3 linked regions of the Homo sapiens genome follow. The protein of the gene in region 2 interacts with the protein of the main gene of each other region in a pairwise test. Each region holds a gene or a part of one and is shown on either strand. Other genes may lie near its edges. The genes, in order: SH2D4A, UBXN11 and PRKAA1.

Region 1 (3,651 bases), on a different chromosome or scaffold from region 2:
GAAATTTCATACATGGCACCACATCCTGCTGTTCTGATTCTGGGCACACAAATAAACTCACAAAAAGGCCTCTGTGTTGTGTATTACAGTGAAGCTGAGTTAGAGCTGGACTGCCCGGCTCTGCCGCTTACCAGCTGCTGACCTGTGCTCTATCTTCCTAATCTGTGAGATGGGCATAGTGATGGGCTGGACTCCAAGGGTTATTGTGAAGATTAAGTGAGTTAACACATGTAGAGTGCTTAATTAAGATGGTGCCTGGTACAAGAAGTGTTAGCTGTGTTATCAGGAATATGCAGGGCGGGGGAGACTGGAGGAATATGACTTTGACACTTTAAGGGTTTTAGATTCTAGGATCTACCCATGCCTTGAATAGGATTCGCTGCATTCAAAATGGGGAACACAGCAGAAGTCTCAACCCCAGCTGAACTGTTCATCTTCTGCCGTGTGTGATTTCTGCGAAAACCAACCATTGAACTTAAGGACATTTACTGGAATGTCAAGGAGTCATTCTGTCTCCTTTCTTACCACTTTATCTTGGAGCTTGTGGATTTCATTGGCTCCACCCTTTGAGAAGCTGCTAGAAACAAAAAGTCAAAAGTCAAGAAATCTTGACAAGACATCCATTTTTTTTTTTTTTTTTTTTTTTGGCTGTTCAAGCCTTTAAGGGTATCTCAATGCAAAATACAAAGTTGGCAAGTGGATCTGGGAAGGGCGTGATATTACTTTTAGTCCTTTAAAATTTTTCTCTTAATGTTTGGTTCCATTTGGATTCTGGTAGTTGAATGCTGCCGAGATGATAGGTTGCAGTCAGTAGGGATAGGTGTAGTTTCATCAAGGGCCTGGCTTCACAATGAACAGTCAGCGAATCTAAGAGCTGAGTATGCACACCACTCTGTGGTAGCCTAGCTGTTGAGCGTGCTTGTCTCAAAAGACAGGTGTAAATCAAGGAACTACTTTGCACGGAAGAGGAGGAAGACGGGAAGCTGAAGGAGGCCCCCAGATGGTGAGAGGGGCATTACAAATCTAACTGTATCAATGACAAGGTGAACGAAGAGAAACCAACAACACTACGATGGTCATAATATAGCTAAGTGACTTGTCTGAAGTTTAAGACTGTTTGAACATAGTATGGAGAAACAACGTATTTGAGAGCACATGGCAAGGTGGTAAGATTATTGAGGTGTTATTATAAATAACAAATTATTGGTCAATTTCTTTTTTTTTTCTTTTTTTATTTTTGAGACAGAGTCTCCCTCTGTTGCCCAGGCTGGAGTGTAGTGGCGCGATCTCGGCTCACTGCAACCTCTGCGTCCTAGGTTCAAGCGATCTCCTGTCTCAGCCTCTTGAGTAGCTGGGATTACAGGCACCCACCACCATGCCCAGCTAATTTCTGTATTTTTTGTTTTTTTAGTAGAGATGTTGGTCATACTGGTCAGACTGGTCTCGAACTCCTGACCTCGTGATCCCCCCTCTTTGGCCTCCCAAAGTGCTGGGATTACAGGCGTGAGCCACCCCGCCTGGCCTATTGGTCAATTTCTTAGGACACATGTGATTCTGAAAAGTTGTAGTAAGTTTTTTTTCTTATATCTTATTACATCGAATCCAAAGTCTTTTGTTTTCCAGAATAGATATATTTACATAGTTTCCTGCTGATTACAAAAGTATGATGGTTTATGGGACTTAGAAATTGTTTAAAAATAGAGAGAGAAAGTATGACAGTGTGGTAATATTTTTAAGCCAATATTTTAAAATAGAAATGTGGAAAGTAGAATGAAACCTCAGTAGGATTTCCAACCACAGGAGAACTTCTAGGAGGCCACTGTGCACTCTCGCTTTATGGTTTCTCTTTCAAGGAGCCATGCGGTAAAGTCATATAAATGAAGGATCCTTTGTTATGAACCTAATGACCTCTTCATCCCCCTAGTTTATCTGGTCTGTCCATTTAGATTTTATTAAACTAGGTTATCTGGAAAAAGCACACCTAAAACTCGGTGACCTTCCAGAATGTAGATGGATGTTCTCTCTTGCACCTGCCCTGATTTTCATGGCTCTAGTAGGTTATCTGGAAATTACATTATCCTTTTGTGAAGAGGAAAGTACATAATTTTGTTTATTTAATGCTACTTTTTAGGGAAATTGCAGAAAATGCATGGTGGTCTAGTTTTTATTTCTTCCTTTTTCTTCCTTGAGCATGGCTCTATTTTGGTTTGGTTTGGGATGAGTTACTCTGTGACATATCAAAAGTGGTATTTTCTTTTGAAATAGGTACTTTGCAGAGAGCCTTTTAATTTCTTCCTGTGACTTTTTTTTTTCTTTCTTTTTTCAGCCACACAGTTGGTGGTTTGTTAGGCTCTGGGGTAATAATGTGTTTGCTTAGTTGGGAGCTGGACAAACCTCTGTGAACTTTTTTTGTTTGCCTGAGATTGACCTGTATAAAGTTAGGGTTTGTTTTCTTTTTTTTTTTGACAGAGTATCTTTAGAAATTACAGGATAGAGGTTATACAAACTCTTAACAAAGTGTGCCTCAGATTTTCTTCTTCTCTTTTCTCTCTGAACTGAAAAGTGATACTGTGTTTCCTCCTAGCTTTTTTTTTTAAACCCGTCCTAGCCAGTGTCCACACATTTTAACACGCTGCCTGAATGTGGGCTCTTTCTCTCTGCAGGTTCAGTGAACAGCATTTTGGACAGGACATTTGGTGCCAGGTCTGAGTAGCCAGTTTGCTGAATTATTGTCCCAGTCAGCCAGGATTGTGAGCTGTTTGGGAAGTTTCGTGGAAACGCCCAAGTGCCAGCACAGGTGGAGGGACACCTGGAGGCCAGTTTCAGGAACTTTTGCCACAAGTATAAAAGACTTCAGAAGTGCAAAGATGCTGAAACAGATACTGTCGGAGATGTACATAGATCCTGATCTACTGGCAGAGCTCAGCGAAGAACAGAAACAGATCCTGTTCTTCAAGATGAGAGAGGAACAGATCCGACGATGGAAAGAAAGAGAAGCAGCTATGGAAAGAAAGGAGTCCCTGCCAGTGAAACCCAGACCAAAGAAAGGTAAACTTATCCACGTTTCTTCTGTGGATGTGTTGGTAGAACAGCTCCTGGCTTGCTTTGACAATTTCACACTAGTCACAAGCAAAGCAGGTGCAAGTTCCAGTTTGGCAGATGAATCCTAAATGTTATTGAGAATCTAATAGTGCAGTATGTCCACCTGAAGTCTACACACACACACACAGCATTCACCATGGAGTTGCATAGCTATGAGGAAATCTTTTACTTGAAACCAGACTAACCTGAAGCTGTATTAAAAAGTCACCTATGAGGTTTGATTTGAGGGGTATTAAGAAAGGTTTCTATCTCCTTTATTGTTACTGGTTCCTAATATGCTACTACTAGAACACAAAGTTCTTGTGTCAGTATATTTATAGCAATTGTGTTTGCATTTCTTAGACCTCAGAGATTTTTCTTTGAGGTATCTTTTTAGGGAACACCTCCTGTTAAAATGTAAGGAATTGCTATAAGGAAAAAAATCATAATACTATCTTTTTTTAGTGTGAATGAGTTTCTCAGATGTAAACTTTTCCTCGTTATCAAAGGAATCTCTGGTAGTTTGAGAGGGTTCTTTTGAGACCATGGGGGAGGAAATCTTTGTACATT
Region 2 (3,651 bases):
GGCTGTCATGTCCCTAGCAGCCCTAGCCTCTGTGGCTCCCTCCCAAGCTGGGCAGTGGTCTTAATGTCTCCTTAACTGACTGCCTGGGGAAAAGGACAACGCTAGATAATAACAGCAGCTGTCTTTTATTGAGCACTTATTTTGTGCTAGGGGTTTACTATCCATATTCCATTCCCACTTCTTATCAAGCCTATCTATAAAGGCTATAATCACCTCCATTTTTTCAGATGAGGAAACTGAGGGTTAGAGAAAGTTACATGGCTTGTGAGAAACACAGTAGTAAGCAGCAGAAGCAGGATCTGATCCCAGATCTGTGTCAGGCACTGGGTTGGCAGCTGAAAAGTACAGGGCAGAGCTCCCAGCTCTGGATCGAGGCCTTCTGGGTTCAAATCCCAGTTCCTCCCTTCTATCTGTGTGACCTTAGGTCATTTAATGCTTGTGCTGCAGCATTCTCTTCTAGAATGGATGACAGTAGTATCTGCCTCCTAGGATGGCTGTAAGGCTCCAAGAAGTAACCATGTTAAGAGCCAGCTTGGAACACGCACCCTGTCCATGTTTGCTACTGTGCCCAACTCCACCTTGCACACATGGTCCTTACGCCAACCCTGAGGCTTAAGGCAGGGGTAATTATTTTTATTTATTTGAGATGGAGTTTCACTCTTGTTGTCCAGGCTGGAGTGCAATGGTACAATCTTGGATCACCGCAACCTTGCCTCCTGGGTTCAAGCGATTCTCCTATCTCAGCCTCCTGAGTAGCTGGGATTACAGGCATGAGCCACCACACCCGGCTAATTTTTGTATTTTTAGTAGAGATGGGGTTTCATCATATTGGTCAGGCTGGTCTCGAACTCCTGACCTCAGGTGATCCGCCCGCCTTGGCATCCCAAAGTGCTGGGATTACAGGTGTGAGCCACCACGCCAGGCTGAGGCAGGGGTTATTTAGTTCCATTTTACACATGAGGAAACAGGCCCACAGAGATGAAAAATGACTCGTCCCAAGCCACTTGGTGAGAGGAGGAACTGGGAAGGGAGCCGGGGCTGACTCTCAAGTCTGTTTCCCCCACCCATCTGCACCATCAGGAGAGGGAGGTCAGAAGAGGGACAGATGGCTCTCAGGGAGGATGTAGGGACAGCTGCTGGCCAGAACAGATATGGGACAGACCTTAGGTTGTGCAACTATTTCTGGGTCACAGACCCCTTTGAGAAGCTGACAAAGCTCTGGCCTCCTCTTCTGAAACACGTGTGGCGCATACAGCTGTGTTCTGGCTTCAGGGGAGAATACGGAGCGGTGGGGACAGCCGTGACAGACAACAGAGCAGAAAGGTGGAGGGCAGGTAGATGCTGGCTGGGTACAGACCAGGGGCCTGTTCTGTCATCTTTGATGGGACCTGGCCCCCAAGTAAGTCATCTGTTTGGGTGTGCCCTACAACACACCAATAACTTTTGGGGCCTCAGAGAGGCTGTTTTTCAACAGGACAAGCAGGCTGCGGCAGGATGTGGGTCAGGGCTCTGGGGACCTAATTCCTTTCCTCTCAGTGGTGCAGTGGCTGTACCAGGGAGGTGCAGATGTGTTTCCTGTTGCTTTTGCAGCAGGTGAAATGGTAGGCCCCAGCTGGCCTTCTCCTCTCCCCTATATTTCCTACCATTGAAGGGGCTATACCTGCCCCCAGCCCCTCCGGGGGCTCCCCACATAGTCCCTGAGATTCCCAGGAAAAACTCGCCTAACAGAATGATACCAAGACACTTTTCTTTTAACAACTACCTTAAGGACAAATAGGCAAACCTAAAAACAATAGCAGAATAGATCATCTCATACAATGCCTGCCTCAACCCTTTTTTTTTTTTTTCCGAGAAAGGGTCTCCCTCTGTCACCCAAGCTGGAGTATAGCGGCACAGTCATGATACTGCAACCGTGACCTCCCGGGTTCAACTTATCCTCCCACCTCAGCCTCCCAAGTAGCTTGGACCACAGGCAGGCATCACCACACCCTGCTAATTAATTTAAAAAAAAATTGTAGAGATGGGGTCTCGCTGTGTTACCAGGGCTCTGTCTTCTTTATAGATGGGGAAAGTGAGGCCCAGAAAGGTCAGATGACATGGCCTGATCAGACCAGACAGAGCCAGGAAGAGCACCAAATACACCAACTCCTAATTCAATGCTCCTGCCGCCTCCCAGGGCCGGGGGTTTTTCAGGCTGATGAACATGGGTGGTTGACATGGGATGGGGTGAGACCAGGGAGGATGCCAAGAAACGACGAAGGGGAAGAGAGAAGCTTGCCAAGAAAATGGCCCTGGCTTAAAGAAGTAAAAGCAGGTGGCCCAGGCAGATGCTGGATATGATAGAGTGGAGATGAGACCAGGGGCCAGGAAGAAGGAACCACAGCTCTGGGCAAACCAGCACTGAGAGAATGAGGTGGGAAGAGCTACCACAGCAGGGCCTTGTGAAGCCAGTGAGCCCCCACCACCCCACCAGGGTTCAACTGAGGCCTGACCCGTGGATGGAGAGAGGTGCAGCTGGGGAGTCACACAGCAGGAGTAAGGTCAGAGGGCAAGTCCTAGGTCTGCCCTGAGCTAGCAGCAGAACTCAAATGGAAAGGCACTTCCTCTTTGAGCCACAGCCATCCTTTCTGTGCAATGGGGAGATGGTAAGAACCCTGTACTGCCTGCAAGATCCAGCTGGTGAACCTGTCTGTAAATGACAGCCCTGTGCCAAGCGCCAGGAGGCAGGCATCACCATTTCTGTTTTACAGATAAGGAAATTGGGCCTTATGAGCTGTCACGCCCCAGATCATGCAGCTTGCAGGGCCCAAGTGACTCAGCCTCAGTGCTCAGTGATCACATAGGCTGCCTCTCAATATTGGTTCTTGAGAGGCTGCTTACTGGGGTCCCTTTTCCAGGGAGAGTGGCAATGCTGGGAGATCACCTCTGAGGCCTCATCCAACTTTGAGAGCCCACGAGTGTATTAAAATGAGAAGGGAGCTCAAGTCCAAGCTCTTTGTCCCAACTCCCAAGACCCTTACTTAGCACCCAGCCAACCCTCAACATGCCCCTCGCCTTGCGCTCTGGTGGGCACTGGAGGGCACTTCCGAGCTCTGTAACCCTGGGCCTCTATGGGCCTCAGCTTCCTCTTCTGTACAATGAGGACGATAAAAGTTTCCACACTTCACAGGGCTGCTGTGAGGCTTGGAGGAAGCGTTTGGCAGATGGTGGCTGTTGTTGTCCCTAGCACCGCCTACTCATCGCTGGGCTCAAGCTGTGCCCACTCACCCCTACCTCCTCCAAGAAGCCTTGCTAGGAGCCACCCCCAACCTGCCTTGAGGCTGCATGCCTGGAGCCCTTGCACCTACTCCCTTGGCCCTCGTCACAGGCCGCTGCTTTCTGCTTGCTTGTTTGCCTTCCAGCCATGCTGGGCACCCCTTGAGCTCAGGAGCATTGAGCCCTGGGCCTGGCCCAGAGTGGCTGGGCCACTAAAAGCAGGGTTGGATCCTGCTTTCCAGAAATGTCTGAGCACCCGTGCTCTGCTAGGCCCTGCCCATCATGGCGATGCCCACGCCCAGGGTCCTGCCATCCTCAGGCTCAGACTCAAGTGAAGAAGACGGGGCGGCAAATGGCGACAATGGCATGTGTAAGTATCACTGTGGGGGCTGTGGA
Region 3 (3,651 bases), on a different chromosome or scaffold from region 2:
TCTCGAACTCCTGATCTCAGGTGATCTGCCCGCCTCGGCCTCCCAAAGTGCTGGGATTACAGGCATGAGCCACCGCTCCCGGCCATTAATTTTTGTATTTTTTAGTAGAGATGGGGTTTTGCCATGTTGGCCAGATTGGTTTCGAACTCCTGACCTCAAGTGATCTACTCGCCTCGGCCTCCCAAAGTGCTGGGATTACAGGCATGAGCCACTGCACCGGGCCAGAATATGTGTAAATATATTATTAATCATACTTAGTACTAATTTATTAAATTACTTCTTTTACAGTTGGCAAACATGAATTGACTGGGCATAAAGTAGCTGTGAAGATACTCAATCGACAGAAGATTCGGAGCCTTGATGTGGTAGGAAAAATCCGCAGAGAAATTCAGAACCTCAAGCTTTTCAGGCATCCTCATATAATTAAACTGTAAGCTCTGTTTATATTAAATATAGTCCAGTCATCTTTTCATCTTTTTTGTTAACCTACTTAATGTGACAAGTGAGAAAAATGACTGACACTTCTTTTTGTTTCCTAAGGGTTTTGAAAAGTTTCTTCCTAGGCTGTGTGCGGTGGCTCACACCTGTAATTCCAGTACTTTGGGAGGCTGAGGCAGGCGGATCACCTGAGGTCAGGAGTTCGAGACCAGCCTGGCCAACATGGTGAAACCCTGTCTCCAGTAAAAATACAAAAATTAGCTGGGCATGGTGGTGGGCGCCTGTAATACCAGCTACTCGGGAGGCTAAGGCAGGAGAATGGCTTGAACCTGGGAGGCGGAGGTTGCAGTGAGCTGAGATCGTGCCATTGCACTCCAGCTTGGGCAACAAAAGCGAAACTCTGTCCCAAAAAAAAATAAAAGTTTCTTCCCATTCATGTATTTTTCTAACCCCATTGATGGTCATTTAAGCCTGTGTTCATGTTTTGCCCTTGTGCTTATCAGCTGTTATCTTCTCATTCTTTCCTGTCTCCTGGAAAGATGCTCTTCTGGTAATGTTTGGTGCCCCATTGCTGTAAAACCAACAGTGATCTGCTAGTAAAAACTCTTGACCTCCAAATGCCCACATGATGTCAGTTAGCCTCACTAGTGAGAATGCGGTAGTAGAAAGGGTTTTTCCCCATCCTGCTTATACCTGAACATATAGATAACAAAATTTCAGGAATCCAAGGTTTCAAAAGGGCAGTAATCTTACTGTTGTTTTACAGTTGCCAGTTATAGAGTCTACAAATAACTATTTCCTGCTCAGCTTCTGCTTTGTTATGCAGGCAATAACTTAAAGATGCTTAGGTTTTTCTCCTGAACTGGCTGACTCAAACTTGTTTCACTCTTACCTCTTCTCATTTGTTGAGTGCTAGGTTTTAAATACCATCCATATGCTGACCACCCCTAAATGTACATCTCTTGCTTTAAGATCTCTTCTTACACCAGACTTATTTGCTCACTGCTGACTTTACATTTCCATTTGGATGTTCGCAAGACATTTAAAACTCAACCCGGCCCAAAATGAACTCTTTATTACTCTCCCAAACCTGCTCTTCCCACAGTTTTCACCATCTTGGCTAACAGCCAATGACCCAGGGCTAAAACTTAGGAACCATTTTTAACTTCCCTGTTTCTTTCACTTTCTACCATGCATTTCATTTCTTCCTTCACAATCAAGCTAGGATTTGATTGCTTCTCAGTTCCTTTATTGCTGTCAACCTGGTCTCAGCCACCATCTGTCTCATGAAATCCTGAAGTAACCTCCTGTGGCTACCTTTACTGTTGACAGTTAATTCTTCACATTGCTGCCATAGTTTTACTTTTAATATGCCAGATCACATGACTGCTTAAAACGTACGATAGCTTTTCATCTTCCTTGGAGTAAAAGCCAAAGCCTTATCATGGCTTGTAAAATTCTGTGTCTTCTGGCCTGCAGTTAACACCTTTGACTCTACATCCTATTTCTCTCTAATATTCCTCGAACATGCCAAGCAGGCTTCTACTTGGGGACCTTTGCAGTTGCTATTCCCTCTCCCAGTTTCGCTTTCCTCCTAGATAATTACATAATTTGTTCCCATTCTTCTTTTAGGCTCAGCTCAAATGTTACTTTATTAGAGGCTTTCCTTTAGCACTCTGTATACAAAGATTCCCCTTCATTTGCTTTATTTTTCTTCATAGCATGTTCCACCACCTGAGATATTGCTTATTTATTTAGTGTCTGTTTCCTGGTTCCTGGAACATGAACTCCATGAGAGCAGAGAATTTTTGTTTCCTGCAGTTTTTCTAGCTCCTAGCCTAGTACCTGGTATACTATAGGTGCTTAGTAAATATTTATTGAATGAATGAATATATGTGTTTTAATATTTGTAGACAATGTTTTCTCTCACCAGGTACCAGGTCATCAGTACACCATCTGATATTTTCATGGTGATGGAATATGTCTCAGGAGGAGAGCTATTTGATTATATCTGTAAGAATGGAAGGGTAAGCTGTTCTGCTTTAATTCTGTATGTATTTTGTAACTCCCCTTTATCCTTTACTAGCATCAAAATGTCAGCAACCAATTTTAAGAGGTCTATTTAATAACCAGTTCCCTTAGTCATATATTTGTTTAGAATCATAAACTATGTAGAACTAGAAAGGATCTTAAAGATTATCTCCTTAGCCTGTTTATACAGATGTGGATACTGAGCCTCGCGGCTTATATGATTGCTCACAGTAACGTGATTTATTAATGACGGAATTGGCTTGAGCCCCCAGAACTCATAATCCTCAGACTTATGCTTCCAGGGTATACAAATACTTTGAATATGTATCTTAATGTAATTAATCGTTACAAAATATATTATTATTACTTAAAGATCTAGGCCTTGCTAGTCAATTCTAGCCACATTTAAATTGCATTCATTTTTTGGTTTCAGAAATCTGATGTACCTGGAGTAGTAAAAACAGGCTCCACGAAGGAGGTAGGAATTAGATATAAAGAATTTACAGCTGGAAGGAACTTTGTAGGACATTTTGAACACTACCTTAAGTTACAGATACAAAAACTCAACACTGCCCTCTGCCCATACTTTTTCTCATACCCAGGTTATGTGGTATGCAAAAGCCCCTTTGTGGGAGAGCTGTAGCTAGCCCTGAAAAGAGAGCTTTTCTCTCAATTTTAAGTTATTTACATTACTCATTCATTTGTTCTATATAGCATGTCTATTTACTTTTATCAAAATCAAACTTATTAACCAAGTTAATTTTGATTTTACTATTTCTTAACATGATTCATTTCTATTTCAGGTACTCCCCTTTACTCCTGCTTCTCCTTACCAAAAAAAAAAAAAAAAAAAAAATTCTGCCTGGAGAAATGGGAAACAGGCACAATTGATATATATTTTTCTTATCTTTTCTGTTGTTGTTTATTTCTTGGTTTTACCTTGTGGGTATTTCTTCAGTTTTACCAGTTGAATATTAAAATTTCAGCACCCGTATTTTCTATTTCAAAAGTTTCTTATTTTCTGAAATTTTCATTTTTTTAGTCTGCTGTTATTTGCCTCACAGATATAATAACCTAGTCTGAGGATGGCATTTTAAAAAAAGTCTTCCTCTGTTCCGTCTTGTTCTGTACCTTCTGTGCTCTCTGCATTCATTTTATTCATTTTTGTCTTTGATGCATGGC

The links.
Region 1: the proteins of UBXN11 (region 2) and SH2D4A interact in binary tests that used the Homo sapiens proteins (3 or more experiments, as listed by UniProt).
Region 3: the proteins of UBXN11 (region 2) and PRKAA1 interact in binary tests that used the Homo sapiens proteins (3 or more experiments, as listed by UniProt).

Annotation. Positions count from the first base shown.
Region 1 is NC_000008.11:19,316,681-19,320,331, forward strand, and holds part of SH2D4A (SH2 domain-containing protein 4A), read left to right. Parts: intron 1-2,663; 5' UTR 2,664-2,867; coding exon 2,868-3,048; intron 3,049-3,651. UniProt on the Homo sapiens protein: Inhibits estrogen-induced cell proliferation by competing with PLCG for binding to ESR1, blocking the effect of estrogen on PLCG and repressing estrogen-induced proliferation. May play a role in T-cell development and function.
Region 2 is NC_000001.11:26,286,074-26,289,724, forward strand, and holds part of UBXN11 (UBX domain-containing protein 11), read right to left. Parts: intron 1-3,651. UniProt on the Homo sapiens protein: May be involved in the reorganization of actin cytoskeleton mediated by RND1, RND2 and RND3. Promotes RHOA activation mediated by GNA12 and GNA13.
Region 3 is NC_000005.10:40,774,224-40,777,874, reverse strand, and holds part of PRKAA1 (5'-AMP-activated protein kinase catalytic subunit alpha-1), read left to right. Parts: intron 1-288; coding exon 289-430; intron 431-2,371; coding exon 2,372-2,465; intron 2,466-2,902; coding exon of another isoform or gene 2,903-2,947; intron 2,948-3,651. UniProt on the Homo sapiens protein: Catalytic subunit of AMP-activated protein kinase (AMPK), an energy sensor protein kinase that plays a key role in regulating cellular energy metabolism.